7 linked regions of the Homo sapiens genome follow. The protein of the gene in region 5 purifies or fractionates together with the protein of the main gene of each other region. This does not show direct contact. Each region holds a gene or a part of one and is shown on either strand. Other genes may lie near its edges. The genes, in order: ATL1, NUS1, IMMP1L, SLC25A17, TM4SF5, LCLAT1 and ATL2.

Region 1 (4,041 bases), on a different chromosome or scaffold from region 5:
TCTCATATTTACAACCTATGATTTGATTAGCATTAGCTTTGTTAGGAGCTATCTGAACCACTATCATAAGTTGTCATATCATTCTCTTTTTTAGTTAAAAACTTCCAAAAGCAGTATCAGATTACTTCAGATTGTCTCTGTACCTGTAGGCAGCAGGTAATAGCTACAATTCTTCCAGCATTAAGAACATACTTATGGCCAGGTGCGGTGGCTCACGCCTGTAATCTCAGCACTTTCCGAGGCCAAAGTGGGCGGATCATCTGAGGTCGGGAGTTTGAGACCAGCCTGGCCAACATGGAGAAACCCCGTCTCTACTAAAAATACAAAAATAGCCAGTCATAGTGGCGCATGCCTGTAATCCCAGCTACTCGGGAGGCTGAGGCAGGAGAATCGCTTGAACCCAGAAGGCGGAGGTTGCACTGAGCCGAGATGGCACCACAGCACTCCAGCCTGGGCAACAAGAGTGAAGCTCCATCTCCCAAAAAAAAAAAAAAAAACCCTACTTATATATACTTTATAACATAATTGTAACGTGCCTTTGAAGGATCTAGCTGAGATAAACTAGTGGTAGCACAATGGGAAATGAATGAAGTAAAAACTGGATCCTCTGAGCCACTTTCTGAAATAGTCCCTCAACCACAAAAGATTTAAGAGGGGTTGAGGTCAATGTCAAAACCCTCCTAGACTTATGTTATGCTAAAACCTATGAGGAATACAGAATTGAGTTCTTCAAAGATTCTGATAAAATATGTAATCTAAACTGAAAAATCTGCAGGAGTATCTGTTCTGAAATGCTCACAAATTAATATTGTAAGCAAAGTTGATTATAATGCTGTTAATAAAGCAGGATATATACTTTTCTTTTTTCTTTTTAATCTGCCTTTGCCACAGGGAAGTACAAATGAGGTAAGTTAAATTTTTTAAAATTCAGAGCTATGTATGTGTAAACATTATGATATTATTTTATAAACTGACTAAGCCATTAAAAGATGTCTTTATGTAGATTAGAACAATCTTTGGTGACTTCTAACATTTAAATTTGTAATTGTGAATTTTTAACATGGTCTTAAAATATTTAACTTTTTCTAGACATCATGTATGATTTGATCTACACACACACAAAAACTAAGAATTGAATATCATCAGTATTTGTTTCATGAATGTGTAGAAAACTTCAAAATTCTTAAGCTCTGAAATGGTGGACTCTGCTGTACTGCAGAGTAAAGCAAGCAGTTATGAAACCTGAGGAAATGTAACTACTGGAGGGTATTTATTTAAATGTAGCTACAACCTTTAGAAGTTGTTTTCAACTTTGGCTTTTGACTGACAGTAATACATACCACTTTAAGCAGGGCCCAGGCCAGTATGTATTCTTTCTTGGCAGACCTCAGGCCTGACCTGTAAATTAGTGTTCATTTCTCCTACCGCACATGTGCAACACTACATATCTCAGAAAAGACTCTAGGCATCCACGAAGGAATCATCTGTTACACTAAGAAAAATTACCACTCTGGAATCATTTAGGTCATTATCTTCAGGAAGCAAAGCTGATCTTGAACAACTATAGAGATAATTCTTTCCTCAGTTTCTACTGTGGCATATAATTGGATTATGTCCTCGAATCAAATACCATTTACTATTTACAAGTCAATAAGAAGTTATTTTATGCAAAATTCAGTAAGCAAGTTCATTAAAAAAGCAAAAGCAAATTTCAGCTTTGTAAATCAAAGCTTAAGAAAAAATATAAGAGAATTAGAATTAAATTGAATGCCTTAGAATCAGAATATAATGGAAAACAATACTATGTTGCACCAATATACATTCACAGATCTGAAGATGGTACCATACAGACGTAATGCCATAAGAAAATCAAGGCCAGGCGCGGTGGCTCACGCCTGTAATCCCAGCACTTTGGGAGACTGAGGTGGGCGGATCACGTTAGGTCAGGAGTTCGAGACCAGCCTGGCTAACATGGTGAGGCCCCATCTCTACTAAAAATACAAAAAATTAGCCAGGTGTGGTGGCAGGCACCTGTAGTCCCAGCCACTGGGGAGGCTGAGGCAAGAGAATAGCTTGAACCTGGGAGGAGGTTGCAGTGAGCCAAGATCGTGCCACCACTGCATTCCAGCCTGAGCGAGAGAGTGAGATTCCAACTCAAAAAGTAAAAAACAAAAACAAAAACAAAAAAAAACCAGATCCAAAGAAAGTAGGTATAGACTCACAAATGATAAAAATTAATGGAATTTCCTGGGAACAGATTACTATTTAAAGGATCTCAAGCTTTTATGCAGCTTTTAAAAATATTCAAAGACTCTTTACGAACTCCAGAACTAAATCAGACAAGTCATTTGTAACTGACTGTCAAGTATGTGAAAGTCAGAGGAGGGGATGAAATCTTAGACACTAGCTAACGGGGCCAGGAAACAAAGATATCTATGAACACTTATATAAAGCAATATACAATACACAGAGATTCCTATGATTCAAACATCATTAAAAACCCACAGAGAACAATAAGAGGTAGTTTTAAATGAGGAAAGCTTGCTGAGGTAATGTTTTTGAATAAGGTTTGTAAGATATTAGCTAAGTCACGGAAACAAGGCAAGAGCGTGTAAAGTGAAGGATCCTACTGTGCTGGGGGAAGGACACCATATGTGCTTAGCTGCATGACTGTATCAGTAAATGATGGAGAATAAAATTGGCCCCACTCAGGAAAACACTGGAAGCCCAGAAAGCAAGTAGCCTAGCTATGCATAATAGTTACTGCCAATCAGAAGTTATGAGGTCTTACAATTCATCTAAAACTGCTAATATTCACAATTTGAATTTTCAGCACACCCCTGGGGCAAAGTAGAAGCTCACTGCTCCAAGAGGTATGCAAGGTAAAAGGAAACACAGTTTGAGAATAAAACATTCACCACACAGGTCAACACACAAAAGTGTTAATGCACACATTGAGGAGTTGAAAATACTTTTGAATTTTAAGATAATAATTTATATATCGATTAAAAAAGATTTCAAATTCAACATGCTAAATTTTATACAGTACGATAAACTAAAAAGGAAAAAATTTTACATCTGTGTGTTTAATAAAATGTTTTATAATTTTGATGCTTTTATTCTAGGCTTTGTACAAGCTTTACAGTGCAGCAGCAACCCACAGACATCTGTATCATCAAGCTTTCCCTACACCAAAGTCGGAATCTACTGAACAATCAGAAAAGAAAAAAATGTAATGCAAATTTTAAGAAATACAGGTGCATGACCAATTGTCAATTAAATATTCAGTTTTATGTCTCCATGCAAACATTCAAAGTGCTTCCATCAGAACGGAGTAAAATACTAAACACCTCTGAAGACTGCAAACTGGATTAGTTCTTTTACTTCAGTGTTTAATAAGCAGATGTATGTATGCATGGTTATACTATTTTGTTAACATGTACAATTTCCTGATTTTTCTTCAAAAATGCTGTTATAAAGTATTTGTCTATTTATGATAACAGTACACGTGTTCTGCTTGAATTTACTAAATTCTACTACTGGGTTATAATTAAATCATGTGATATTCCACGTTTGGATATGCTCATTTAATTTCTACAGAAAAAATTTTAAATTATTTCACATTAGCCATTTGTTAAAACACAGCATCATAACTCAGCAGGCTGGATTTAATCTGTATCATCTTATATATATCACAATCTTATTTTTAAGCACATTTTAGAGTTCCTTAGTTGCTTTATCAAAAACCAGATATTGCTTTTACATGGTTTAATAGAATATAAACCTCTTGATAAAAAATGCACAAAAAATCACTTTGTATATGTGAGTTTCACTGCATTGTATATTTTTTCATTTGGTACACAAAGAATGTATTCTTCATAGGTTTATTCTTTTAATATGTGAACTATTATTAAAGTTTACTCTGGTTCCTAAGATTAAAAACAAATGCTTACTGAATTTGAAAATGAGAGGTGCTGATATAGAATGATGAAGGTTTATCTCTTTTTTTAGACTCAAGATGCATTTTATTTAATGTTGACA
Region 2 (4,041 bases), on a different chromosome or scaffold from region 5:
ATTGAATCTTTGCTGGACAAGAAAGTTGGAAATTCTACAAAGAGAACTGGTTTGATGGAAAAGATTTAAGCAGCTTTATATGTATATATTTATTATATATATGTGTATATATTAGCCTGTGTTCTCTCTCCCAGTTATTTTGTTAAACTACTTTAAAGTCATGCCTGACTGAGAGTGCAGAGTAGGAACATTTGATAAAGATTAAAAAGGCAATGGCTACTAGAAAGCTGCCTCTGCAAATTGTCAAAGACTTGTTCCTTTTTTTTTAGTCAGAGCTCTTACTAGTTTTACATTAAATGTATGTCACATAGTTCCTTTGTCTTTCTCATCTTTCTCAATAACATGACAGTAGTTAACAGTGTTAACTTTTCCCTGCATAGAGGACCATACATTGTTCTTTGTATTTTATTTCTGTGCTTTGTTTTAAATTTACTAAATTGTTTTTCTGTTCTCTTTTTACGTAATCCTTATTACTTCCTCTTATGATTTAAAAAACTAATCAAATTGAGGCAAGATTATTTAATACAAGTAGTAAATCTGCAGAAAAGGTACATTAGACTGTGAGTGAGGAACATAACAGGCTCTAGACCACTGCTGCAGTTTATAATTTCTTGGAGAAGAACCTTAAAGAGTTTAGGCCTCAGTTTCTGAATCCATAAAGATTTTAAGTAAGTGATCTCTTAAAATTCCTAAGTCTAAATTTCTGTCATATTCACATGCCACTACTTAAGTAGTTACCTCTGTTCTTTTTTTTGCTGGAAGCCAGACTCTTGTATTAACAAAGTTTTGTTGTCATGTTTTCCTTTTAGATTCTAGTTTAGGACTAGTCATTACAGCTTTGTTTGACATTCGTTTAGTTCTGGATCTAGTGTTGTTTTCATAGCAAGCATTCACTTGAAGAGGAAAAATTAACCTAGTTGTGTTTTACTTGCCTTTTTCTTTTTTAAAGGTATTTTCAAAAGAAATAATTCCAGATTGATGGATGAAATTTTAAAACAACAGCAAGAACTTCTGGGCCTAGATTGTTCAAAATACTCACCAGAATTTGCAAATAGTAATGACAAAGATGATCAAGGTAAGCATGAGTGTATAATTGAACATGTAACATATGAAGATGTGTGTTTTGTGTTTCATGGCAATTTCTGTTACTCTGTCATTTATTCATTCACGTTGCTCTGTTACTCTTTATTGTCAACATCTTTAATCATCAGATTTAGACTTTCTCGTCTTAATCTTGGTAAAAAGTGAACACATGATAAGGATTTTATTTAACCAGGCAAATTTTTTAACTGGTTCCACAGAGAATCCATAGAATGGACACATTTGTAGAGATATTGAAATGAATATATAAATAGAGGTACAACTGGTTGTTCTATGGAGTGAGGAAAGAAATTGAATCTTTGCTGGACAAGAAAGAATTTGCATGTCTATAGATAAGAATTTTGCAGTGTTATCTGAGAATCCCATCAATTGTAAGATAGCTCCTATAAAAGTAGAATTGATAAAGGTATGTATGCTATAGGCAATGCATATTCCACTCTAACAGTTTTTTCTTAGTCTTTATTTTTTCTTTTATTCTGTGTTACTGCTAACGATATCGCAATTATACAGGAAATTTTAGATGCGTGAAAATTTGTTAGCTAGCCTATAAAGTTTCTGTTTTCTAGAGGATGTAGTCACAATGTATAGTCATTCTGAACACTTTGAAAAGAAGGCAGTGTATAAATATATACATGGATGTGATTTGGGATATATGGATCCTTTCAGAGGAGAATAGCTAAGTATGTTTTGATATTGAAATTGAAGGGCTTAAAAAATTCTTGTTTACTGTAAGAACTGTATGTTTATTTTGGTTTAACCTTGTATTTCTTAAAACTGCTTTTGAAATATACCTGGAAGAGAGTGTTTTTAAAATACATTGTTTGTTTTTTCTTCCAGTTTTAAATTGCCATTTGGCAGTGAAGGTGCTGTCTCCGGAAGATGGAAAAGCAGATATTGTAAGAGCTGCTCAGGACTTTTGCCAGTTAGTAGCCCAGAAGCAAAAGAGACCCACAGATTTGGATGTAGATACGTTAGCCAGTTTACTTAGTAAGTTTTTTTATATATATATACATATATATGTATATGTATGTGTGTGTGTTTAGTTTTGTCACACGAGGATACAGTATGAAAGAAAATATTTTTGTTTCTTTCACACCATAAAGCCTGATTCTTTTGTTGTTAATACCTGTTAAATTTCTGAAATTTAAAGACCTATGTAAAAATGGTTTCGAGACAATGAAATTTGTAGCCACTCACTCGCATGAGGATTTAATGGTAAAGGAGATGACCTTTGAGGATCTTTTTTGTAGTGATGAATATTCTTGAAAATAGGACTTCTGCTTGTTAGCCTTCCTCTCCCTCTTCCCCTTTCTTTTTAGTTTGAACTTTCCCTTAACTTTGAACTTAATCTTTTTATGAGGTGATCCCAGGAATATAATCTTACTGTTACCATGATTCCTTTTTAATTATTCTTTCTATTATGCTATACCAAATATACAACTGTATTTGTCATGTTATACCAAATATAACTTTTTTTCTTCAGCTGTTTAAATAAGCCTTTGGTTTGCATATTCTGTCTAGAGAATTCCCTCTAGGACCTTTTTGCCATAATGTCATGGTTCTTCTTGCTTACTAGCATTAGCCTTGATCCTTTTGAAGAAAGACAATCTCTCTAGTAAATTCATGTTCATTAATAGCTTCTATAGGCATACAGTTTTAGACATTCATTCATTTTTTATTACTTAGACTATCCATTTACTTATTAATCGTGCATTTTCAGGCTGGATGGGGTGGCTCACACTTGTAATCCCAGCACTTTGGGAGGCTGAGGCAGGTGGATCGCTTGAGCGCAGGAGTTTGAGACCAACCTGCGCAACATAGCAAAACCCCATCTCTACAAAAAATAAAAAATTAGCCAGGCATGGTGGCTCACGCCTGTGGTCCCAGCTACTCAGAAGGCTGAAGCAGGAGTATAGTTTGAGTTCAAGAGGCAGAGGTTGCAGTGAGCCAAGATCGCATCAGTACACTCTAGCCTGGGTGACGGAGTGAGACCCTGTCTCAAAAAAAAAAAAAAAAAAAAAAAAAAAAGAAAAAGAAATGCATTTTCTATCTTAACTTATTTACTTAACTCTCCATTCTTTGTTTCTTCCACTTTGACATGTGTCCGTCACAGAGCAAAGTCCATCTCCCACTTCTTGGTTTCGCTAACTTCCTACTTTTGTTGACTACTTGCTTCTTACCCTACCCTGTCATTGCCTAATTATATTCAGGCTCAGTGAGTAGTAGACCATTATGGGGCCTCTCTGCTCAGATGTTACTGGGATGTTGACTGTTTCCTGCACCCTATGAGACCCTAATAAGAGAGTAATTTCATAAGGACATTCTAAAAGTTGATGGAGATCCAAAGATGACCTTCAGGTAGTCCATGGGAAAGCGCTAATGTTTATTAAGCCCAGTTGTTGCCTTCAGGCATTGTAAGCTTAGGATAAATGAAAATGTACACAATTCTTAACTTATTAATTTGACAGAGGCAAGCATTCTGAATACCATCACCATCAAAAGTTCCTTTGTGACTGCATTTAGTCCCCACTCCTGCCCCCTAAACCAGCAACCACTGGTCTGGTTTCTGACTATACTTTCGCTTTTTCTATAAATTTTATATAAAAGGAGTCATACAATATATAGTCTTTTATGTCTTGCTTTGTTTACTTACCATATTTTTGAGGTTCATCTATGTAAAATGCATTAGTTATTCATTGTTTTTTATTGGTGAGTAGTATTTTCTAGATATACCACGTTTTGCTTATGCATTCATCGGTTAATGCACATGTGGTTTGTTTCCAGTTTTTGAATAATGCTGTATGACTGTTTGTGTACAAGTTTTTGTGTGGATGTTTGTGTGTTTTCAAGAATTCAGAAAGTCAGAATTCTATCAGATAAATTTAACAAAGAGAGTGAAATAATTAAAAAGAATCAAGCAGAAATTCTGGAGTTGAAAAT
Region 3 (4,041 bases), on a different chromosome or scaffold from region 5:
GTTGAATAAGAGTGGTGAAGGTGGGCATCCGTGTCTTGTTCCAGATCTTAGAGGACAGGCTTTCAGCTTTTCCCCCATTAAGTATGATATTAGCTGTGGGTTTGTCATATATTGCCTTTTATTGTTTTGATGTATGTTCCTTCTTTGCCTAATTTCTTGAGAGTTTGTATCGTGAAGTGATGTTGAAATTTATCAAATGCTTTTTCTGCATCTATTGAGATCATTGTATGGTTTTTGTTCTTCATTCTGTTGATGTGCTATATATCACACTGTTTGATTGGCATGTGTTGAACCATCCTTGCATCCCTGGGATAAATCCCATCTGATCGTGGTATATTATCTCTTTAATGCGTTGTTGGGTTTGGTTTGCTAGTATTTTGTTAAGGATTGTTGCATCTGAGCTCATTGGGGATTTTGGCCTACAGTTTCTCTTTTCCTGCATCTGGTTTGGGCATTAGGGCAATGCTGACCTGGTAGAATGAATTAGGAAGAATTCCCTCAATTTCCAGTTTTTTGGAATAGTTTGAGAAGAATTGGTGTTGGTTCTTTTTTATATGTTTGGTAGAATTCAGAGGTAAAACCATCTGATGCTGGGCTTTTCTTTTTTGGGAGACCTTTTATTACTGGCTTCATCCTTTGCCAACTTTGTGATGATAATAAGCAAGTTACTTTACTACTCTTAGGCTTTTTTTTTCTTGTCTATAAATTGAGGATGGTAATAATATCTATCTTACAGAGATAGTATATGTAAATCTTGACATGTTAAGCAGATGTTACATATTATTATCGATATATTTTAATAAATTTGATCTGAGAACAGTATATTGTAGCCTAGGCCTAAGAGTTAGGCTATTAGTTAAGAAATGCATGATACATAGTTGTAACAGTTAAATAGTAAAGGACAGATATTAGAAATATTTTAGATGAACAATATTTTAAAATTTTATATAGCTTTAAAAAATCTTTAAATGGTTCTTTATGCTGTTGTTTCATAGTATTTATGTGTTCCTTTTGTTACATCAGTAGTTAATAGCTCACAAATGAGTGTATCTTTTTATAAAGTACTTTGACATACATTGCTGAATTTGATTCTAATAATCATTCTATGAGAGTATTTCTACTAGGCCCCAGAAGGGTTAAGTAATTGTTGAAGATTATACAAGTTAGTAAAATAACCAATGTGAAACTTGAATCTCCATATTCCTATTCTAGTGATTTCTCCATTATTTCCTATTACATGGCAAGAAGTAATATATAGCAAGGAACTTTTATTAGTCCTTTGAAAGAGTTACTATCTTTTTTAAGCATCTGCCTTAATAGAAGAAACAACCAAGACATGGAAGGGGACAGACTAGTTTATAATCTACTAATTATATAATTCATATGTAGACCCAGTGACATTTGAATATAAACTTTGGTAAATCAAAATATTTAGTGGCTACAATTTGCCATTTAAAATATCATTAGAACTGATAACAAACTCTTGGTTTCCTGCACCAAATTGTATTAGGCACTTAGTACATTTTGGGTGATTGTAAAATATTTTACAATAGTTATTTCTTAAGTGTTTTTAAATAGTATTGATCATGAAACTTTTTGAAATTTACCATCAGGCCAATGGTGGCAGAGTCTACATAGAACTATGCTTCGTGGTGTTCTGGGGAAAACCTTTCGACTTGTTGGCTATACTATTCAATATGGCTGTATAGCTCATTGTGCTTTTGAATACGTTGGTGGTGTTGTCATGGTAAGTTTTTATGTTCAAGAATATTCATCTTAAATATATACTTTCTTTCAAATGGAAGGAAAGTGTGTTTTTCCTTTTGAAAACCTAGTTGAAGTTATTTAATGACTAAACTGTGAAAGTTAAAACATAAAATCTTTCTAAATATTGGAATAATAAGAGAGTGTGTTTGAATTGGCACTGATAGAAGGTATAAGGACCATTACTTAAATATTTTCTGTATTCTGTTTCTAATGGGCACAAAGGGTCCTTTTGAATAGTATAACAATAATAGTCATTACCATTTATTGAATCCTATTTACTGTGTTTCAGGATATGTTTGATGTTTTACACTTACTAACTCATTTAATCTTTTACACTTCTTTGAGATACTTACTAGTAATCCATTATACACATGAGGAAATGAACTGAGAAAGCTTAAGTAATTTACTTGTTCCAGGTCCCACAGTTAGTAAGTAACTTGAAATTTCAACACATATTTGTCCAGTTTTCAAAATTCCAGCTCATAACCACAATAACTGTAATTAAAACAAATTAATCATCTGTAATTAAGACAGATTATTCTGCCTAATGTCTATATTAAAATGTTAAAGTTTTTCCCTATCCCCAACTAATACTTTTTCTTAATATTATATTGGGAAACTACAAACTGTGGCTGTTGATTCAAGCCTTTTGTCATGTAAGTGAAAGAATAAATTGATTGACCAGCCAGTCAATTTTTTTTATTGTTGTTATTACTGTTTTTTTTTTTAAATTAGGTTTACTTTATCAGATTGACAGTCACATAACCTCCAGTTAAGGTGGAGTAATGGAAATATATATATTTAACTGAAATTTCCCTTCTTTTTTTTTTTTTTTGGAGACAGGGTCTTGCTCTGTTGCCTGGGCTGGAGTGCAATCAAGTGATCTCAGTTTACGGCAGCCTCTGCCTGCTGGGCTCAAAACAATTCTCATGCATCAGCCTCCCAAGTAGCTAGGACTACAGGCGCACATCACCATGCCTGGCTAATTTTTGTATTTTTAGTAGAGATGGCGTTTCACCATGTTGGCCAGGCTGTGCACGAACTCCTGGCCTCAGGTGATCTGCCTACCTTGGCATCCCAAAGTTCTGGGATTATAGGTATGAGCAACTGTACCTGGCTGAAACTTGCCTTCTTGATTTTTTTGTAAGTTAGATTGGTACTTCCAAAGGTAGCAAACAAACTGTAATTGTATTTCCTCCTATTTCTGCCTGAGTAGGAACTTTTGAGTAAAAAGTTTTATTTACAAATAGAGTAAATGGAGACTGTCGGATTTAGATTTTTAAAGTGGCGATGATAGTTTTTTCTGATTCTGAGGTAGAGTTTGAGTATCCCTTATCTGAAATGCTTGGGACCAGAAGTGTTATGGATTTTAGATTTTTTTGGATTTTGGAATATTTGCATATACATAATGAGATATTTTGGGGATGGGACCCAAGTCTGAACGCAAAATTCATTTATATTTCATATGTACCTTATATGCATAGCCTGAAGGTAATGTTATACACTATTTTAAAGAATTTTGTGCATGAAACAAAAATTTTGACTGCATGTTGGCTGTGATGCATCACATGGGGTCAGGTATGGAATTTACCATTTGTGGTGTCATGTAGACACTCAGAACATTTCAGATTTTAGAGCATTTAAGACTTCAGATTTTTTATTAGGGACACTCAACCTGTATATATCAAGATTATTGTTTTGAGACATACAAATAGGAAAATCTTTAATTGCTTCATTGTAAAGATGGGTTCTATTTAGGTTGCCAGGTTTGGTCTTGAACTCCTGGCCTCAAGTCATTCTTCCAAAGTTTTGGGATTACAGGTGTGAGCCACCATGCCTGGCCATGAAAATCTTTAAAGTCCATCTCATCATGCTAGTATTTTTCAGTAGAACATTTAAGTTGCAGCCCCATGAAATGAGTAAGCTATTCTCTTGGAAGAGGAAGATGGGCATAAGCTCACTGAGAATAGTATAATACCATTTAGTAAATCATCATCATGTTCACTGGATTATATCTGATAGTAATAAGAAAATGTATTATTCTCCCATTCATTCAACCAATATGTATGGTTTATCAATTTTGTACCAAACATTGTTCTTGGCTTTGGTTATATAGCTAGGAACATGAGAGAGATCTCTGCCTTCATAGAACTGAGATTCTATAGGGTGGCCTAAATTTGGAAACATAGGTAATGTTGTTTTATTCAGGCATTATAATGTGAAAGCAATAATCCATTTATAATGTATTTGTCTATATTTCCAGACTTAGTGGCT
Region 4 (4,793 bases), on a different chromosome or scaffold from region 5:
CAATGTTGGGTAGCTGTGACAACGGTACACAAAGCCTAAAATATTTCCCATCTGCTCTCTTTAAAAAGTTTGCCAATCTCTATGTTCTTTTATAGCACTTAACTGTATCTAAAATTATTCTACTTATTTTTTATTTATTCATTTATTTTTTATTGTTTTTTTTTTTTTTTCTTGAGACGGAGTCTTGCTCTTGTCACCCAGGCTGGAGTGCAATGGCACAATTTTGGCTCACTGCAACCTCTGCCTCCCAGGTTCAAGTGATTCTCCTGCTTCAGCCTCCCGAGTAGCTGGGATTACAGGCGCCCACCACCATGCCTGGCTACTTTTTGTATTTTTAGTAGAGACGGGGTTTCACCATGTTAGCCAGGCTGGCCTCGAACTCCTGACCTCAGGCGATCCGCCTGCCTCAGCCTCCCAAAGTGCTGGGATTACAGGCGTGAGCCACCGCACCCAGCCTATTCATTTATTGTCTGACTCCCCTATTGCAATGCATAGTTCATGAAGAAAAAGACCTTCTCTACTGTACTCCTTGCACCTAGAACAGCGTGTGGCACATAGAATGCACTCAATAAAGGTGTTTAATGAACATTTATTGCAAGAAGGAAGAGAAAAACATTTCCCATCTTCTCACTTTCTTCTCTTAGATGCACTCCAACTATTTCCCCCACCACTCCACCAAAACTGGTCTTTTCAATTAACCACTGGATTTATCAACATGATAAATTCTCAGTTATTTCTCAGTCCTCACCTTACTTGACCCATCAGCAGCATCTGACCCAGCTGGTCTACTTCCTTCCCCAGAAACACTTTCTTCACGTGGCTTTCACTCTTAGTTCTTAGCTTCCCTCCTGCAGTACTGATCCATCCTTCGTTTGTCTCCTTTGCTGGTGCAATCTTATTTTCTCGGCCTCTTAATGGTTAGCCTGCTCCAAGACTCAGTCATTGAGATTCTTCTGTCAGTCCATACACACTTCCCTAGTGAGCTCATCTAGTCTCACGACTACTCTTAGGCATTTCAAACTCCTCCAAAACCAAAGCCAAATTTATCATTTCCCCCAAAACCTTCTCCTTCACAGCCTCTGCCATCCCAGTAAATACCACCATCCCTCCAGTTACTGAAGCCAAAAACTCTTGGAGTCAACCAACCCTCATTTTATAAATATATTCCAGGTCAATGATCACTTCTACCATGTCTGCTACCACCCGGATCCAAGTCACCATCATCTCTCGCCTGATAATTGCTTGTCCCCTGTTCCCTTACATTCTACTCTCAACACAGCAGCCAGGGTGATCACGTTTAAAGGTAAATCAGCAAGTTCAACAGCTAGCCAGAGTGAAAGTCTCACACAATTTGGCCCCCTGAAACCTATTTGCCTCTTTGTTCCCTCCACTCCGGAAACACAGGCCTCCATGCCCATCTTAAAGCAAGTCACGCAAGCGTCCATCTCAGCCTTCATGCTGGCTGAAAGGCTCTTCTGGCTGAACTGAATGAACCAGGCTTCCTGAATTAGGCATTTTCATGAAATGCTGTGTCACTTAATTCTCTAAACTCTGTGAGGTAGGTATCACTTCCCCCACTTTACAGATTAAGAAAGTAAGGTTTACAGGGCATCTAGCTAACAAATGATGGAGTTAGGGTTAAATCCAGATTAGTCTACAGAGAAGGTGAGCTCTCAGTGAAGTTTCTGGAGGCTAAACAGAGGATTCAGTGATGTTCCTCTGAAGTCACAGTGATTTTAACAGCTAAAGGTGTGTGCTAACAACTGGTGAAGAATATGAGAAAAGGCAGTCAAAGAGATAAAAGAACCACAAGAGGAGTCACCCAAGCCAAAAGTGGAAAGTTTTAAGGAAAAGAGGGGAGAGGGGAAGTGTCAAGTGGAACCTAGACACCAGAAGCCCAAGAATCAAGCGTATACCTCATAACAAACCACACTTGTGGTAGACAGGAACCCAGATCTTGATTTAGAAAGAAAGAAAAAAAAGCCAGGCACAGTGGCTCATGCCAGCAGTTTAGGACGCCAAATCGAGAGGATCGTTTGAGGCCAGGAATTCGAGACCAGCCTGGGCAACACTGCCAGACCCCAAAAATTTTTTTTAAAAATGTAGCCGGGTGTGGTGGCTCACACCTGCAGTCCCAGCTACTCAGGAAGCTGAGGTGGGCGGATCGCTGGAGCCCGGGAGATCGAGGCTGCAGTGAGTCGTGATCGCGCCACTGCACTCCAGCTTGGGCAACAGAGCAAGACCCTGTCCGGAAAAAAAAAAAAAAAAAAAAGGATCTATCTTCTCCTGCCAATAACGGTGCCCAGAGCTATCCTACTAGGTATTGCCACTTGCCCGCGGCAAGCGTGAAGACAGGCTGTAGGGAAGCATGTGACTAAGCAACACGGCTTCACACCTACGTTCTCCTCCGGGCCAGTAAAGCAAAGTGTGTGAGTGTGCGGTGGTAGCCTGACCTTAAACTTCCCACGGCAAAGATGCGGACCCTGAGCGGGCACGTGTGAACACGGCTCTCTACCCCGCAGTCTCTAGGAGACCAGGAGGTGGCGGAGTCTCGGCCCTTACCCCGAATTCCTCCAACAACTTTCCGCCAATGGCCCATTCCTCTCTGCCCCACAGTCATGACAGTGGACCCCAACCCACACTACCTCCCTCTCAGACCCATCCCTCAGGCATATCCCGGGACTGGCCCCCGAGAAGCCTTATAACCCGTTGCGGCCCGGGCGTAAAGACCCCGTCTCACCACGGCTCCGGCCACGGCGTGGACCAGGCTTTCGTAGGACAGCACGGAAGCCATTGGTGCGGCTCCTCGAAGACCCAGCCACACTTTTCCCACAGATGCCGCAGCCAGTGGAGTTAGGAAAGGAGCACCGGAGCTCAGGGTGTGAGAGTCGCAATCCCCGCCCTCTCAAACCCGCCCGCCTGCCCTAGAACCACTTCCGGGTCGCGGGGCGGGAAAGCGGGGGGGGGGGGGCGGCTAAGAACGCCCCTGAACGCTGATTGGCCCCTGTGGGCGCGGGGCGGGACAGCGAGGTGTTCGCGGGGCTGGGCTCCAAGGCGCAAGGCGGCCTGACACCAGGTACCCGGCTCCCGGTTCCTCCGACGTTCTCTGGCGTTCCCGGGCCCTGACCAGTTCCTCCATCTCAGAAGTCTTAATGGCCTTCTTTTACTCTGGTGACAAAGATGGGGAAACTCAATGAGACTCCAGTCTCCCTGTTTCTCTGCGCCTGAGCTCTTTTCTATTCTGAAAGTCACATTTTGGCCAAGAGGAAAAAAACTCACTTGTGGACTTGGAAACTTCTTCCTCCAGAAAAACCCTTGAGTGTGGTGGGAAGAGATGTTGAGCATCAGGAGCCCAAAATACAAGACGCGAGTGGGAGCCTCCCCCTAGTTGGCAACTATGGAAGTCATTTAACCTCTTGGGTTTCCTCTGTGAAATGACAATGTACTAGTACCAACAATCCCCATCTGCTGTGAGGATTACGAAAGCCAATTTATGTAGTAGTACTTCATAAAATACTGAAGGAAAAAAATTTTTTTCCATGTTGCAAAGTGACTAACAAAATTACACAAAACTAAAGCAGCCACATTCAGCTTTAACCTGTCATACTGTGAGATTCTGCTTCAGGATGCTCCTCAGGGACTCAGGGATTCTTTCCTGAGACACCATCACCACTTGTCTTTACCATGTTTCCTTTTAGAATATCCTCGTGATAACTCCTCAGTGCTGACTACATGCCAGGCTTAGTGTTTTATGCCCATCATCACACTTAATCCCTGGGAGAGGGGTCTAACAAAGTTTAACCTGGCCGTTTTCACAAAATTTGCAGAAGATACTGCTTCCAGGAACATTCCCATCACGCCATAGAATCATGACGTGAAAGTGAAGGACCAAAAGTGAAGCGAAGATGATTTTGGGCTGGGCGCAGCGGCTCAGGCCTGTAATCCTAGCACTTTGGGAGGCCGTAGCGGGCAGATCACTTGAGGTCAGAAGTTTGAGACAAGCCTGGCCCATATGGCAAAACCCTGTCTCTATTAAAAATAGAAAAAATTAGCCGGACATGGTGGCACGCGCCTTGTAGAAATTACAATGTTGAAACTGCAGCTACTAGGGAGGCTGAGGCAGGAGAATCGCTTGAACCCAGGAAGCAAAGGTTGCAGTGAGCCAAGATTGCACCACTGCACTCTAGCCTGGGACAGAGTGAGACTCCTAAAAAAAAAAAAAAAAAGATTATTTTGGCATGGGAACATAGAAACTAGTTGGCTGTAAAACTTGAGAACTCAGTTCTCATTGACTCCTGATCAAATTGGGAGCTTGCTGTCAAGAATATACTGGATTATGCATCATAGTTATGAAAACATTGTTAATACTTTGTTTTGACGTTTTTGTATCTTACATACCAAAAACATTTTGATCAGCTTTTTTTTTTTTTTAAACCTGAGACAGTGTTTCTCTGCGTTGTCCAGGCTGGTCTTGTACTCCTGGGCTCAAGTGATCCACCTGCTTCAGCCACCCAAAGTGCTCGTATTACAGGCATGAGCCACTGTACCGGGCCTTGCAACCTTTTTTTTTTTTTTCAGATGGAGTTTCACTCTTGTGGCCCAGGCTTGGCTCACTGCAACCTCCGCCTCCCGGGTTCAAGTGATTCTCCTACCTCAGCCTCTCGAGTAGCTGGGATTACAGGCATGCGCTACCACGCCCAGCTAATTTTTGTATTTTTAGTAGAGACGGGGTTTCATCATGTTGGTCAGGATGGTCTCAAATCTCTTGACCTCGTGGTCCGCCCGCCTCGGCC
Region 5 (4,041 bases):
CTACACAAGCTCCTCTGCGGACTCCCAGGCCCCACCCCACCCTTCCCTGGCACCCACAAATCTCAGATCTCAATGATCCTGAGGGGTAGGCGGGTGAAGGGGAGAGGGGGGAACTACAACCCCAGTGAATCTCGGCGGCCGCTGGCTTTCAGGTTAGCCTAACTGCAAGCCCGGGGTTTGAAGGGAAATTTATTTTAAACCTGACTCGAGGCTGGGCACGATATCTCACACCTGTAATCCCAGCACTTTGGGAGGCCAAGGGGGGCAGATCGCCTGAGGCCAGGAGTTTCAGACCACTCTGGCCAACAGTGAAACCCCGTCTCTACTAAAAATATAAAAATTAGCTGGGTGTGGTGGCAGGCGCCTGTAATCCCAGCTACTTGGGAGGCTGGAAGAACAAGAATGGCTTGAACTAGGGAGGCGGAAGCTGCAGTGAGCCAAGATCGTGCCACTGTACTCCAGCCTGGGTGACAGACCAAGACTATGTCTAAAATAAATAAGATAAATAAATGTAAAATAAAATAAAAATACATTTTTTTTGAGGCGGAGTTTTGCTCTTGTTGCCCAGGCTGGAATGCAATGGCACAATCTTGGCTCACCGTAATCTCCTGCCTCAGCCTCCTGAGTAGCTGGGATTACAGGCGCCCACCACCACACCAGGCTAATTTCTGTATCTTTTCTTTTCTTTTTTTTGAGACAGAGTTTCACTCTTGTTGCCCAGGCTGGAGTGCAATGGTGTGATCTCGGCCCATTGCAACCTCTGCCTCCAGGGTTCAAGTGATTTTCCTGCCTCAGCCTCCTGAGTAGCTGGGATTACAGGTGCCCGCCACCACGCCTGGCTAATTTCTGTATCTTTTCTCTTCTTTTTTTTTTTTTTTTTTTTTTTTTAAATCACTGCTTACTGCAGCCTGGACCTCCTGGGCTCAAGCGGCCCTCCCACCTCAGCCTCCCAAGTAGCCGAGATTGCAGGTGCTTGCCACCACGCCCGGCTAATTTTTGTATTGTTAGTAGAGATAGGGATCTTGCCATGTTTCCTGGGCTGGTCTAGAACTCCTGGCTCAAGCCGTACTCCCACCTCAGCCTGCTAAAGTGTTGGGATTACAGGCATGAGACACCACCCCCAGCCCTGAATTCCTTCTTAATCTGGATCTTACCCTGCAGCGGTTTCCACAGCACCCAGCACCACAGCAGCCCTTGCCCCCTGCCCGAACGGCTGCAATCCCCGGACACAGTACCTGTGGGACAAGAGTCATTGTTATAGCACGTCCCCCCAGATCCTCCAGGCCTGACTTGCATCAGTGCCTACCTCCTTCAGGAAGCTGCCTGTGATGCCTTCAGCCCTTTGGACTGTAGAAGACCTTATCTCTACGTCTCCTGGAGCTGCTGGGCTTCACCTTACTTTATCCTTATTTACGTGCCTACCTTATCTCTGTCCAGATTGTGGCCTCTAGAGGGTAGGGCCCAATATCATTATTTTCCCCAATCTTGGCACATAGTAGGTGCCCTACTGAATGGAAATCAGGGAAACTACTTCACATGCTATGAATTGATTCATCTCTCAGGGTCTCAGTTTTGCCTGTATAAAATGGGTCTGGAAGATCTACCTCACAGGTCTGTTCTCAGGATTTAATGGGAGAACAAGCTGACTAGGTGTTAAGACTGGCTCAGAGGCCGGGCGCGGTGGTTCACGCCTGAAATCCCAGCATGTTGAGAGGCTGAGGCTGGTGGATCACCTGAGGTCGGAAGTTCAAGACCAGCCTGACCAACATGGAGAAACCCCAACTCTGCTAAAAATACAAAATTAGCCGGGCGTGGTGGCGCATGCCTATAATCTCAGCTACTCGGGGGGCTGAGGCAGGAGAATTACTTGAACCTGGGAGGTGGAGGTTGTGGTGAGCTGAGATCGTGCCACTGTACTCCAACCCGGGCAATAAGAGCGAAACTCCATCTCAAAAAAAAAAAAAAAAAAAGACCAGCTCAGAGTAACTCAATATTTATAAGTTCCCTCAGCAGCAGGAAGGGATAGAGGTGTTGGAGTGTCTGGTGAATTGGGATTACAGTAGAGTGTGGAAGAGTGCTAGTGGATGGTCTGATATGGAGTGTAGCATTTTCCAAGATTCAAGCCTTGGTCTTTTTTTCTCCCTGTGGCTTTCCTAACAATGCCCATCCCCTTTCAGGGAATCAGCTCTTCACTCTGCCAGAAGTTGCCTCCAAAACTGATGCCTCCAGATCCTATGTTCACTTGAATATCTTGGTTTTAGCTCAAATTCAACCAGCCTCACGCTCATCTCACAATATTCCTCAAATTCATCTCCCTTTGACTTTCTTGTCTCCATCAGTGGAAAAAATAACATCTACTAGGTCAGCCAGGCTGGAAAGCTTTAATCTTGCACCCAGAAAGACATCAAATTTTCTCAACTTTTACTTAAGTGGCTCCTGAATCTGTGAGTTCCTCCCCACATTGAATCCCTCATCACCTCCCATGAGGGTGTTCTCAGCCTCCCTATTACACTCTCATAGCTCTTGCCCCATGCCACCCTACACTCTATCCTCTATCAGGTTAAACATAGCTTTTTTTTTTCTTTCTTTCTTTTTGAAACAGGGTCTCACTCTGCCACCCAGGCTGGAATGCAGTGGCTTGATCGTGGCTGACTTTAGCCTTGACCTCCTGGGCTCAAGTGATCCTCCTGCCTCAGCCTCCTGAGTAGCTGGTATCGCAGGCATGCGTCATCATTCCCAGCTAATTAAAAAAAATTTTGTAGACATGGGGTCTTGCTATTTGCTCAGGCTGGTCTTGAACTCCTGGGCTCCTCCTGCCCTGGCCTACCAAATTGCTGGGATTACAGGTGTAAGTCACTGCATCTGGCCTAAACATAGCTTTCAACTGGTCTTTTCTCTGCTCAAATCCTTTAGGGTCTCTTCACAGAGAAGCCCATCAAGACTGAACTCTTTTTTTTTTTTTTTTTTTGAGACGGAGTCTCACTCTGTCACCAGGTTGGAGTACAGTGGTGTGATCTTGGCTCACTGCAACCTCCACCTCCCAGGTTCAAGTGATTCTCCTGCCTCAGCCTCCTGAGTAGCTGGGACTACATGCACATGCCACCACGCCGGGCTAATTTTTTGTATTTTTAGTAGAGACGGGGTTTCATCATGTTGGCCAGAATGGTCTTGATCTCCTGACCTCGTGATCCGCCTGCCTCAGCCTCCCAAAGTGCTGGGATTACAAGCGTGAGCCACCGCGCCTGGCCAAGACTTGTAACTTGAACGCCTAACTCTTGTAAGGCATTTAAGCCTCCTCATCTGGCTCCGTTACCTTTATCTTCGTTGCACCAGGTCAGGTTCTTTGCCTGTCTCCTATCTCTGGAATTCCACAGCTGTCTTGCTTCTTGCTTTCGTGTGTGTGTGTGTTTGCTTTTTGAGACAGGATCTCACTCTGTCATCCAGGCTGGAATGCAGTGGTGCAATCATGGCTCACTGCATCCTCAACCTCCTGGGCTCAAATGATCTTCTCACCTCGGCCTCCCGAGTAGCTGGGACTAAAGGTGCGGAACAACATGCCTGGCTAATTTTTTTGGAGAGTTCATGTCTTACCATGTTGCCTAGCTGATCTCGAACTCCTGGGCTCAAGCAATCCTCCTGCTTCAGCCTCCCAAATTGCTGGGATTACAGGCATGAGCCACTGTGCCTGGCTCCTCATGTGTCTTATCTGGCACATACCATCCAAGGCAGCATTTTGTGCTTCTCCAGGGAAAGGGCTGAGAGTTTCAGTTCTATTATATCATCCCCAGCAACCTCAGAGAAACACCTGCTCTCTCTTCTTCCTGTCTCATGGCAGGGCCAGGACCCATGCTGACACCTTACTTTACCTCCCTGGTTAGGTCACTTACTGGAGGCTTGTGGATCCAAACACACCTAGAATTGCCTTTTGGATTTACCAATTTTGAATGATCTACTTGTCTGAGGTTTCTGCTTTTGTTTGAGAGAGGGTCTCACACTGTTGCCCAGACTGGAGTGCAGTGGCATGATCATGGCTCACTGCAG
Region 6 (3,281 bases), on a different chromosome or scaffold from region 5:
CCTTCCTTTTTCAATAGTAATATTTAAACCCACTTTTGACCAATTGTTTGCCCAAATATTCTTGTCATTTGGAGTCAGTGGAAAATCCAGCACACCAAGCACCAGTCTTCTTCTGAGGCAAAAGAAAAGTGTTGTCATTTTCACTCTGTTGGAGCTGCACACTTTTTTTTCTTTTTTTTTTTCTTTTTTTTTTTGTCGTGTAAGAAGGATGCTGGTCAGAGCTGCAGAAAATATGAGGCAATTAAAAGTCTTTAGCTGTTAGCAAACCTGTTAGTTTTACTTCTGCATTGAACCAGCCTCAGAAGCTACTTACTGCTTTATGTACTCTTTGGGCATTAATGCCTTCTCTGTAATTATATCTCGTTTTTGCTTGACAGTGACCTACCCAATAATTGCATCGTGCATTGCCATGAAAGGTAAACACATTGTGAACTGAACTTACCAAGCAGATTCTGTGAGAAAGCACTGGTTGAGGCTGAACACTGTTGACACATCATTTTTATTGGAAGAGTATTAACTGGTGCCTCTTCTGAAACACACCAACCCATATTCCTCTGCTCCCCCAAAGCTGTTTCTGATCCTGCTGGGAGCAACTAACTAGTTATTATGCACATCTGCTCCAGACCCAGCTCTTTAACTTCATGGTTTTACAGCTTGTTTTTTCTTTTTCTTTTCTTTTTTTTTTTTTTTTTTTAAAAAAGCACCTTTTTTTGTTGTTTCCCCTTAATAAAAGAGGTTTCTAATTTATGTTTCTCTAAGATTTCCTTTGGTTGTATTTAGAAACACAAATAGTTTTATAATCAGGATTGCATTTGTGCTGGGTAAAAGAGGAGAGCTGTGCTTTCTACCCCAAAGTTGTTGGTAATGGAGCCGGTCTGCCCTTCCTACAAACTCAAGAGGCTCATTGTTCAAGGTGTAACAACATTTAATTGCATGTCCTCTAACGCTTTGAAACCTTTAGAGGGAAGATCCTCATTTTTTACAATTTTGTTCCTTTTCATCATAGAAAACATGTTTAAGATAAAATACAAACTTTACCTACCCCAAATTCATAAAGTACATTTAGTGCTGTATAGCACTAAAACTTAGAGATACAGACACTGTACTTACTTTTTAAGAATTAGAGACAGTAACTCCAAAAATAATTGTCCTTTTTTCTTTCTTTCTTTTTTTACAATAAGGCTCTTGAAAATTGTCATTACTTGTGTTTTCCTATACATTCATCTGTGTGAAAGCCTTTTTCTTCTTTGATTTAAAAAAATTAACTATACAGTTAATGGTTTAGAACTTAGAACTACTTAGAATTAATGCTAAAGTGTCAGGAAGAAATTAATTTAGCTTCAATAATTGTGACTGGCCTCAGGAATTCTCCCTTCCACACCTGCCCACCTCACCTCACTGCACCGCACCGCACCAGAGCCAGAGCAGCTGCTTGTCTGCAGCAGGACACAGTTCCTACATACGTTTCAGTTCTTTCATGGTAAGCTCAATGGACTTTGAATTGTTTACAGTGCTGTATGTCCAATTGTTAAATGTACCATTCTGAACGATGTTAAAGCAAGTGTGGTTTATTTATGGCATGAACCATGTAACTTGAAATATGAACTTACAAGGAGGGGCACTCATTAGGTAACAAGTTCTTACACCAAACTTCCTTGATGAAATAAGCCAAAATAATCCTAAAATTCATTAGAAGAACTTGATAAAAGACTCAAATAAATGTTAGAAAGAGCCCGTAATTTTAGGACTCCTATAAAATTCTTCCTTGTTTGTTAATGCTATTAAAACTCAGATTCAAGGGAAATACCAGCTTCCACTTGAGTCACTTTGAAATAGTTAATTCAACAGCACCATGTTAGAAATATATTGGCAGCCAAGACTCTGAACTCTGCAGAAACATTTGTTTCACCCAGACTTCAAACTCTAGCCCTGACTATGATGCCCCTGTGTGCATTTACAATAAAGACTCCAACGGAGGGAGCCTGTTGGTGTTAAATTGTTTACATTTCTTTATACAAATAATGTGCTTTCAGTGCCTTAGTTACAGCTCCCTTTCTGTTTCTTGTTCCAAGGATTCTGTAGTATGTAGTGTGTTTCTTAGGTAAAGTCTCTTTTTGCTACTGAAAGGGAAATGGTCTCTAAACACTGGTCACTGTAGCAGGTAAACACTACTCTAACGTGGAGAAATGAGCTTCATGCTGAGGTAGTGGTTGCCTTAGAGCTGTTATTTATGCTGTAGAAAACGAAAATGGTTTTGCTACCTGATAAGCTTCAGATTAGATATAGCCCTAAAGTTATCCTGTACCTGCATTAAATTTTCATTTTAGAAGAGAATCTTGGTTTTGGTAATTCATTTTTTTTTAAGATCATTATGTGCAAAACACCAAGTTTTAAAAATAACTCACAGAATGGCCTTAGTTTTCAATGTCTGATGGTATATTTGTGAGTTGTGTTATCTGTAATATACATCCCAGAATAAAGGAGTGAATTAAATAGTTTACATGTGTGTTACGTTCTGTTTTTGCAGGAATAACAAGTAACTGCAAGTTAAGGTGCTACTTTTTTCCCCACAATGCCTTGCATTGCAGTGTCTAGTGTTAAGGAAAAACCTGGCCAGTTAGGTCTCTTTTTTCCACAGATGTCAAGAAAAGTGGCCTAATCAAGAAAACAATGTACTACCTCCATAATAGGAAAAGTCCAGGCACCACAATTGAATTAAGGACTCAACGAATGTCATCAGAACTTGATTTTCCTCCATCTCTTAGCACAGCCTTGCTATTGAGAACAATTTGGTTGTTCCACAAATGTGGGATCTTATATAAATATCAGCATGACCAACTCTTACCTAAGATAAGTGGGACTCTGTGCTCCAGTCCCTGACCTCACGTTGGGGAGTATATAACTATAAAAGCAAATCTTGGACCAAAATCTGACAAATGTATAAAAATGTGCTTAGCAAACAGACAAACACATGAGAATCACGGAGCCTCTTGTAATGGGGCCTTCTGCAATGCCCCACTCTGTCTTCTCAAGTGAGCACTTTGTGTGATAGATTCATGTGGAGGGGAGTCCACAACGTTGTTCCCTGGGAAAGGGGAATGCAGGACCAGAAGAGCACAGACCCGGCCCCAAGAGCGCCAGTCCCACAGACTGGGACATTGGGTTTGTGGGACTCCTGTCCTCCGTTTAAGCAAAAGGAAGAGAAGGGTTTTGTTTCTCACCACCTACTTAGCTTCAGCATTATTCATTTCACTGATAAATTATATAAAAGGCTTAAGCAA
Region 7 (4,717 bases), on a different chromosome or scaffold from region 5:
GAATATCACTTAACAAGTTGATAAAGATCCTGCCATCAATATGAACGAGGGGGAAGGGTAACTGTACTTTAGATTGTGGAGGTGGTTCAAGTCCCAGAACTAGAATCTTAGTAACTCAAAGAATATTGCCAAGAACACGTATATAGTTATTCTCCTAGATTTATGTGACAATGATGACAAACTCCATATTCTGTTGAAATATATTTGGATGGGCCGGGCGCAGTGGCTCACGCCTGTAATCCCAGCACTTTGGGAGGCTGAGGCGGGTGGATCACGAGGTCAGTAGCTCAAGACCAGCCTGGCCAAGATGGTGAAATCCCGTGTCTATAAAAATACAAAAATTAGCAGGGTGTGGTGGCGGGGGACTGTAATCCCAGCTACTCCGGAGGCTGAGGCAGAGAATTGCTTGAACCCGGGAGGCGTGAGCCACCATGCCCTACCTAGAATGGTATTTTGAAAGCTTTAATAACACCAGTGCTTTTCTAGAGATTGTGCATGCTGTGAATTTTAGACTTATGAAAAGACCTGGACAAAACAGCTGTTTGTACACCCGGACATCTGTTTTTACTGGAGAAGAGGAATTTCTAATGCAGCTGGCAGTATGGTAAAAATCCAAAGGGATCATGTTTCACAGACGCCTCCACGGGCTGACTTGTAATTTAAAAAGTGACCTGAACTTTCTACTGGATGTCACTGGATCCCCAGAAGAAGGTTCATCACAATTAGGTAAGAACCTGCCACGATTCATTTTCCGATTAGAGTGCTTTCTGGCATGCCTCTGCAAGGTGCTAGGAGCACAGGGCCAGGGTATACACAGTTGAGAAGATGGGGGAAGGTCTCATAAGTAGATGGGGAGCGAATGCAAACAAACCTTAGGATGGTGGGGGGGAGGGGAAGCAACAGTAGGGACTTGGGTGAGGAAAGAAAAGATCAAGAGGAAAAGCAGGGCACTGGCAACAACTTGGGGGGTGGATGGGGAGAGAGGAGGGGAATGGCTGTGATGAGGAGGGGGCGATGAAAAGGAGAGAAGGGGTGCGAAAGCCACCTCACGTGCAGGACGCACGAATCAACGATTAGAGATGTAAAGCGAATTGGGAGGGAGGGACTTAGTTCTCTGGAGCTCCCTTCTGCGTTTGCAGAGCCTGGCCCAGCGCTAAGGGGGTGTGGTGCTGAGCTCAGGGAGGTGGGGGTGTGAGACGGCGGCGGCAGGGACACCCCCGCCCCAGTCCAACCAGAAACTTGGAGCCGGGGAGACGGATCTGCAGGCGGGCAGGGCGAGGGCGGAGCGAGCGAGCGATGGGCGGGGCGGGGGCGGAGGGAGGGCGAGGAGATACAGGCGGAGGGCGAGGAGATACAGGCGGAGGGCGAGGAGATACAGGCGGAGAGCGGCGCTAGGACCCGCCGGCCACCCCGCCGGCTCCCGGGAGGTTGATAAAGCGGCGGCGGCGTTTGACGTCAGTGGGGAGTTAATTTTAAATCGGTACAAGATGGCGGAGGGGGACGAGGCAGCGCGAGGGCAGCAACCGCACCAGGGGCTGTGGCGCCGGCGACGGACCAGCGACCCAAGCGCCGCGGTTAACCACGTCTCGTCCACGACCTCCCTAGGTACGGGCCAGCGAGGCAGAGGCCGCGGGGCCCTGATGGGGAGAGACGCTCGCTGCTCGGGCTCGCGGGCACCGGCCGCAGGCGGCGGGGTCGGAGTCCGCGGCTGGTTCAGGTCTCCTCCCGCCGCCGCGCCTGCCCGCCGGGCCTAGCCTCAGCCGCGCCCCGCGCTCCCGCAGCGCGCGGCCTGAAAGGGCGGCTCGTGGGCCGCGGCTCCAGTAGCTGCTGGGAGAACCAGTGGCGCGCGCGTCTGCGACCGGCCCGGCCCCCTGCCCGCCAGCCCGCCGCGTGGCTGCCGCCGTGTCCGCCCCGACCTTAGGGGGCGGCCTTGAGCCGTGGCCGCCTGCCCGGGGCGCGGGGAGGTCGGCTGCGGCTCCGCTCCGTCCGGCGAGCTCCGGACGCGGCGGGGCGACCCGTTAGCTGGTGGGCGTTCGCTGTCCCTTACGCGGACAGGGAGGAAGGGGTGGCCAGGGCATGATGGGCCCCGCGGAGGAGGAGGTCGCGCGGGGAGCAGACACCTTGCTGCCGGGTCCGAAAGCTCCTTAGACACCCTTCCTGGAGGGAACCGCAGTCCGCAGGCCAGGGCTCTGTCCCCGGGCTCGCGTTTCGGGGCTCCTCGGCTCCCGAACCCATTCGCGCGGGTTGTGCGTGGCTAGGGTGCAAGTCTAGATTTTCGTGTCAAACTGGGGTTATGAGCCGTTTACGAGTCACTTGGACGATAGTAAGGCCTGATCACTCTGAAAGTGTCTGTAGTGTGAAGTCACCTGATCCTTGGCTCCCTGGTTTTGCTGAATGTGAGCTCCTACTGTACGTGTACCAGGAGCGCCCCTGCCCCCTCGAAGACGCAGTTGCGTTGGCAGCGCAGTGTATCCCTCTCACTCATAACACCCCTATTTATAGGAGTTTAGCGTTTGATCTCTCACTGTGGTGCGAATTGATCGCATGAAATCCTGATTGAAAATTTTGATGGTACTTAAGAAAGGCATAAAGTTTTTTCAAAGGCTTATAAATAGTAAAAGCCTACGATTTGGTAAGTACGGCCAAGATAAGAGTTTATTATTAAATACAGATACGAGCTCGTGTCTTAAGATTTCTTTTTTTACGGTGTGTAAAGGTTTTGCTGGATAAAATGTAAAGCATTTTGGTATGATGTTAACCACAAGGACTCACTTTAATAGGAAAGTTTATTTGAAATATACTTCATCATTCCTGGTAGTTCTTGGCGCATGTCAGAGGTGATGACAGACTGGAGTTTTGCTAAGGGAAGAAGAAAAGGAAATAAAGCTTATTTTATTATTGTCTGCCAACCAAAACGCTTGACTGTTTGTACAGTGGTAGCACTCTGTAGAATAAAAAACTACCAAAGAAGCAGCTTCGCCTTAGATGTGTGCTGGTTGGATTTCTTAAGTAATTAATTGTTTTGGAATGCGGATGGATTAATTTCGCTCTTTTGGTTGGACCCTAGGGGAAGAAGTGTGTGTTCTTTTCTTTCTTTCTCTTTCTTTCTTTCCTTTTTTTGAGGTAAGAGTTTTAGATGCAGTTTCAAAATATTCTATGTATTTACCTTATTAGAAGAAACATAAATTTATACTTCAGTTATGGTTGTGAACGTTGTTGTGCTGTGGTATCTTGAGAAGAGATGATACTCTTCAGATTGTTGTTGAAATAGGGCCCACCATTTATTATTTAATAAATGCTTTTGTCTGCTACTCATAGGTTTTTGTCCTTTGTTTTTTAGGACGGATCAGCAAGACCTTCACTTGATAGCCATTCCTAGCAAATGATTGCCTAAAACAGTCCCTGTACCTGCTAATTTGCTCCGAGTCACTCATTAATGAGTTAAAAACTAAATGAGCTTGGTAGGATTTGTGTTTAAAGTGAGAAGAAACAGACTGAATGAAAAGGACTCATCTATTTTTGACTGTGTAGAAACTCTTTGTCTCCCTCTGCTTCCTGGAGAAATAGCTTCAAAAACCAAGTTGGGGTCAAGTGTCACTTGAGTAGTTTAGTGTTAGGGAGAGGCTTTGTGTTTATTCTTTTAGGAATGTAGGATCTTTAGAAAGCAAATAAGTACTCATTTTATTGGCTTTTTAAGTTGATAGGATTCTGTAGATATGATTAAATCTATTTAGTAAAGTGTTTTGAAATTCTTCGAAATTATTTAGGGAGAAGTAGCTGCCTTACAGTAAAGATATTATAGGGAAAAGAAACCCTGAGTGAAAATAAGATTATGGCCTTAAGTCGAGTGCACATAGGTGTATTTCAGGATTCGTTTTTCTGTGACTGTATTGTAACTTTAAAGTTTTGGAATATTCACAAGTATAAGTAACTTTCTTGAAATTGTTAGACCTTTTCCAAAATTAGGCTTTTTCCACAGTTGGTATTAGGCAGCTAGCTGCTAAGAGTACGGGGAGACTGATTAACTAGTTTGATAATGCTGGATGGAGTTCAACATATATTTTTTAAATTTTGGGACTTCATAGCAAGATGTATTAAAAAATTGTTGATGGTCATTTGGAAGACCTGTTTGACACACACAATTGTCAGCAAAGCTGTTTGTCAGGCCCTTAAAAAGTTAAGAGCCAGAAATGTAAGGCATAGGAGTAGAAGTTAAACTTTTTGGTAATGGTGGTTTAGAGCTTTACAGCGCAAAGATTTTCTCCAGATAGGTGCAGGGAAGCAGCTTTCTTCTTTTCTTTCTTGTTTTTAACGTGTAATGGTATTCTGATTTTGTAGACATTTTGGGTTTTCAAAGTCCAGGTGTATTATTTACTTTCTAGAAAATTTGAGAGTTATTTACTTTAAGGAATGTAGATGTGAACATAGAATAACTGAACTTGATTCCACAGTGAATTCATTACTTTAGTAGTTTTCTTCCTATCCGTTAGTCCTCCACACAGCACATGATACACAACACTCGAGGGCTTTCTCTATGGCTTTAAAAATGGATAGCAGGCTGAGTGCGGTGGCTCACGCCTGTAATCCCAGCACTTTTCGGAGGCCGAGGCAGGTGGATCACCTGAGGTCAGGAGTTCGAGACCAGCCTGACCAACATGGAGAAACCCCCTCTCTACTAAAAATGCAAAATTAGCTGGGTGTGGTGGCGCATGGCTGT

The links.
Region 1: the proteins of TM4SF5 (region 5) and ATL1 purify together in Homo sapiens (affinity purification with mass spectrometry; one large-scale study listed by BioGRID and IntAct). This does not show direct contact.
Region 2: the proteins of TM4SF5 (region 5) and NUS1 purify together in Homo sapiens (affinity purification with mass spectrometry; one large-scale study listed by BioGRID and IntAct). This does not show direct contact.
Region 3: the proteins of TM4SF5 (region 5) and IMMP1L purify together in Homo sapiens (affinity purification with mass spectrometry; one large-scale study listed by BioGRID and IntAct). This does not show direct contact.
Region 4: the proteins of TM4SF5 (region 5) and SLC25A17 purify together in Homo sapiens (affinity purification with mass spectrometry; one large-scale study listed by BioGRID and IntAct). This does not show direct contact.
Region 6: the proteins of TM4SF5 (region 5) and LCLAT1 purify together in Homo sapiens (affinity purification with mass spectrometry; one large-scale study listed by BioGRID and IntAct). This does not show direct contact.
Region 7: the proteins of TM4SF5 (region 5) and ATL2 purify together in Homo sapiens (affinity purification with mass spectrometry; one large-scale study listed by BioGRID and IntAct). This does not show direct contact.

Annotation. Positions count from the first base shown.
Region 1 is NC_000014.9:50,629,104-50,633,144, forward strand, and holds the end of ATL1 (atlastin-1), read left to right. Parts: intron 1-891; coding exon 892-906; intron 907-3,125; coding exon 3,126-3,236; 3' UTR 3,237-3,942; downstream 3,943-4,041.
Region 2 is NC_000006.12:117,692,093-117,696,133, forward strand, and holds part of NUS1 (dehydrodolichyl diphosphate synthase complex subunit NUS1), read left to right. Parts: intron 1-949; coding exon 950-1,075; intron 1,076-1,938; coding exon 1,939-2,088; intron 2,089-4,041. UniProt on the Homo sapiens protein: With DHDDS, forms the dehydrodolichyl diphosphate synthase (DDS) complex, an essential component of the dolichol monophosphate (Dol-P) biosynthetic machinery.
Region 3 is NC_000011.10:31,460,878-31,464,918, reverse strand, and holds part of IMMP1L (mitochondrial inner membrane protease subunit 1), read left to right. Parts: intron 1-1,613; 5' UTR 1,614-1,642; coding exon 1,643-1,747; intron 1,748-4,041. UniProt on the Homo sapiens protein: Catalyzes the removal of transit peptides required for the targeting of proteins from the mitochondrial matrix, across the inner membrane, into the inter-membrane space. Known to process the nuclear encoded protein DIABLO.
Region 4 is NC_000022.11:40,816,455-40,821,247, forward strand, and holds the start of SLC25A17 (peroxisomal membrane protein PMP34), read right to left. Parts: upstream 2,893-4,793; 5' UTR 2,795-2,892; coding exon 2,741-2,794; intron 924-2,740; exon of another isoform or gene 749-923; intron 1-748.
Region 5 is NC_000017.11:4,777,983-4,782,023, reverse strand, and holds part of TM4SF5 (transmembrane 4 L6 family member 5), read right to left. Parts: intron 1,236-4,041; coding exon 1,155-1,235; intron 1-1,154. UniProt on the Homo sapiens protein: Acts as a lysosomal membrane arginine sensor.
Region 6 is NC_000002.12:30,641,726-30,645,006, forward strand, and holds the end of LCLAT1 (lysocardiolipin acyltransferase 1), read left to right. Parts: 3' UTR 1-2,500; downstream 2,501-3,281. UniProt on the Homo sapiens protein: Exhibits acyl-CoA:lysocardiolipin acyltransferase (ALCAT) activity; catalyzes the reacylation of lyso-cardiolipin to cardiolipin (CL), a key step in CL remodeling.
Region 7 is NC_000002.12:38,374,031-38,378,747, reverse strand, and holds the start of ATL2 (atlastin-2), read left to right. Parts: upstream 1-1,474; 5' UTR 1,475-1,487; coding exon 1,488-1,605; intron 1,606-2,217; exon of another isoform or gene 2,218-2,568; coding exon of another isoform or gene 2,569-2,632; intron 2,633-4,717. UniProt on the Homo sapiens protein: Atlastin-2 (ATL2) is a membrane-anchored GTPase that mediates the GTP-dependent fusion of endoplasmic reticulum (ER) membranes, maintaining the continuous ER network. It facilitates the formation of three-way junctions where ER tubules intersect.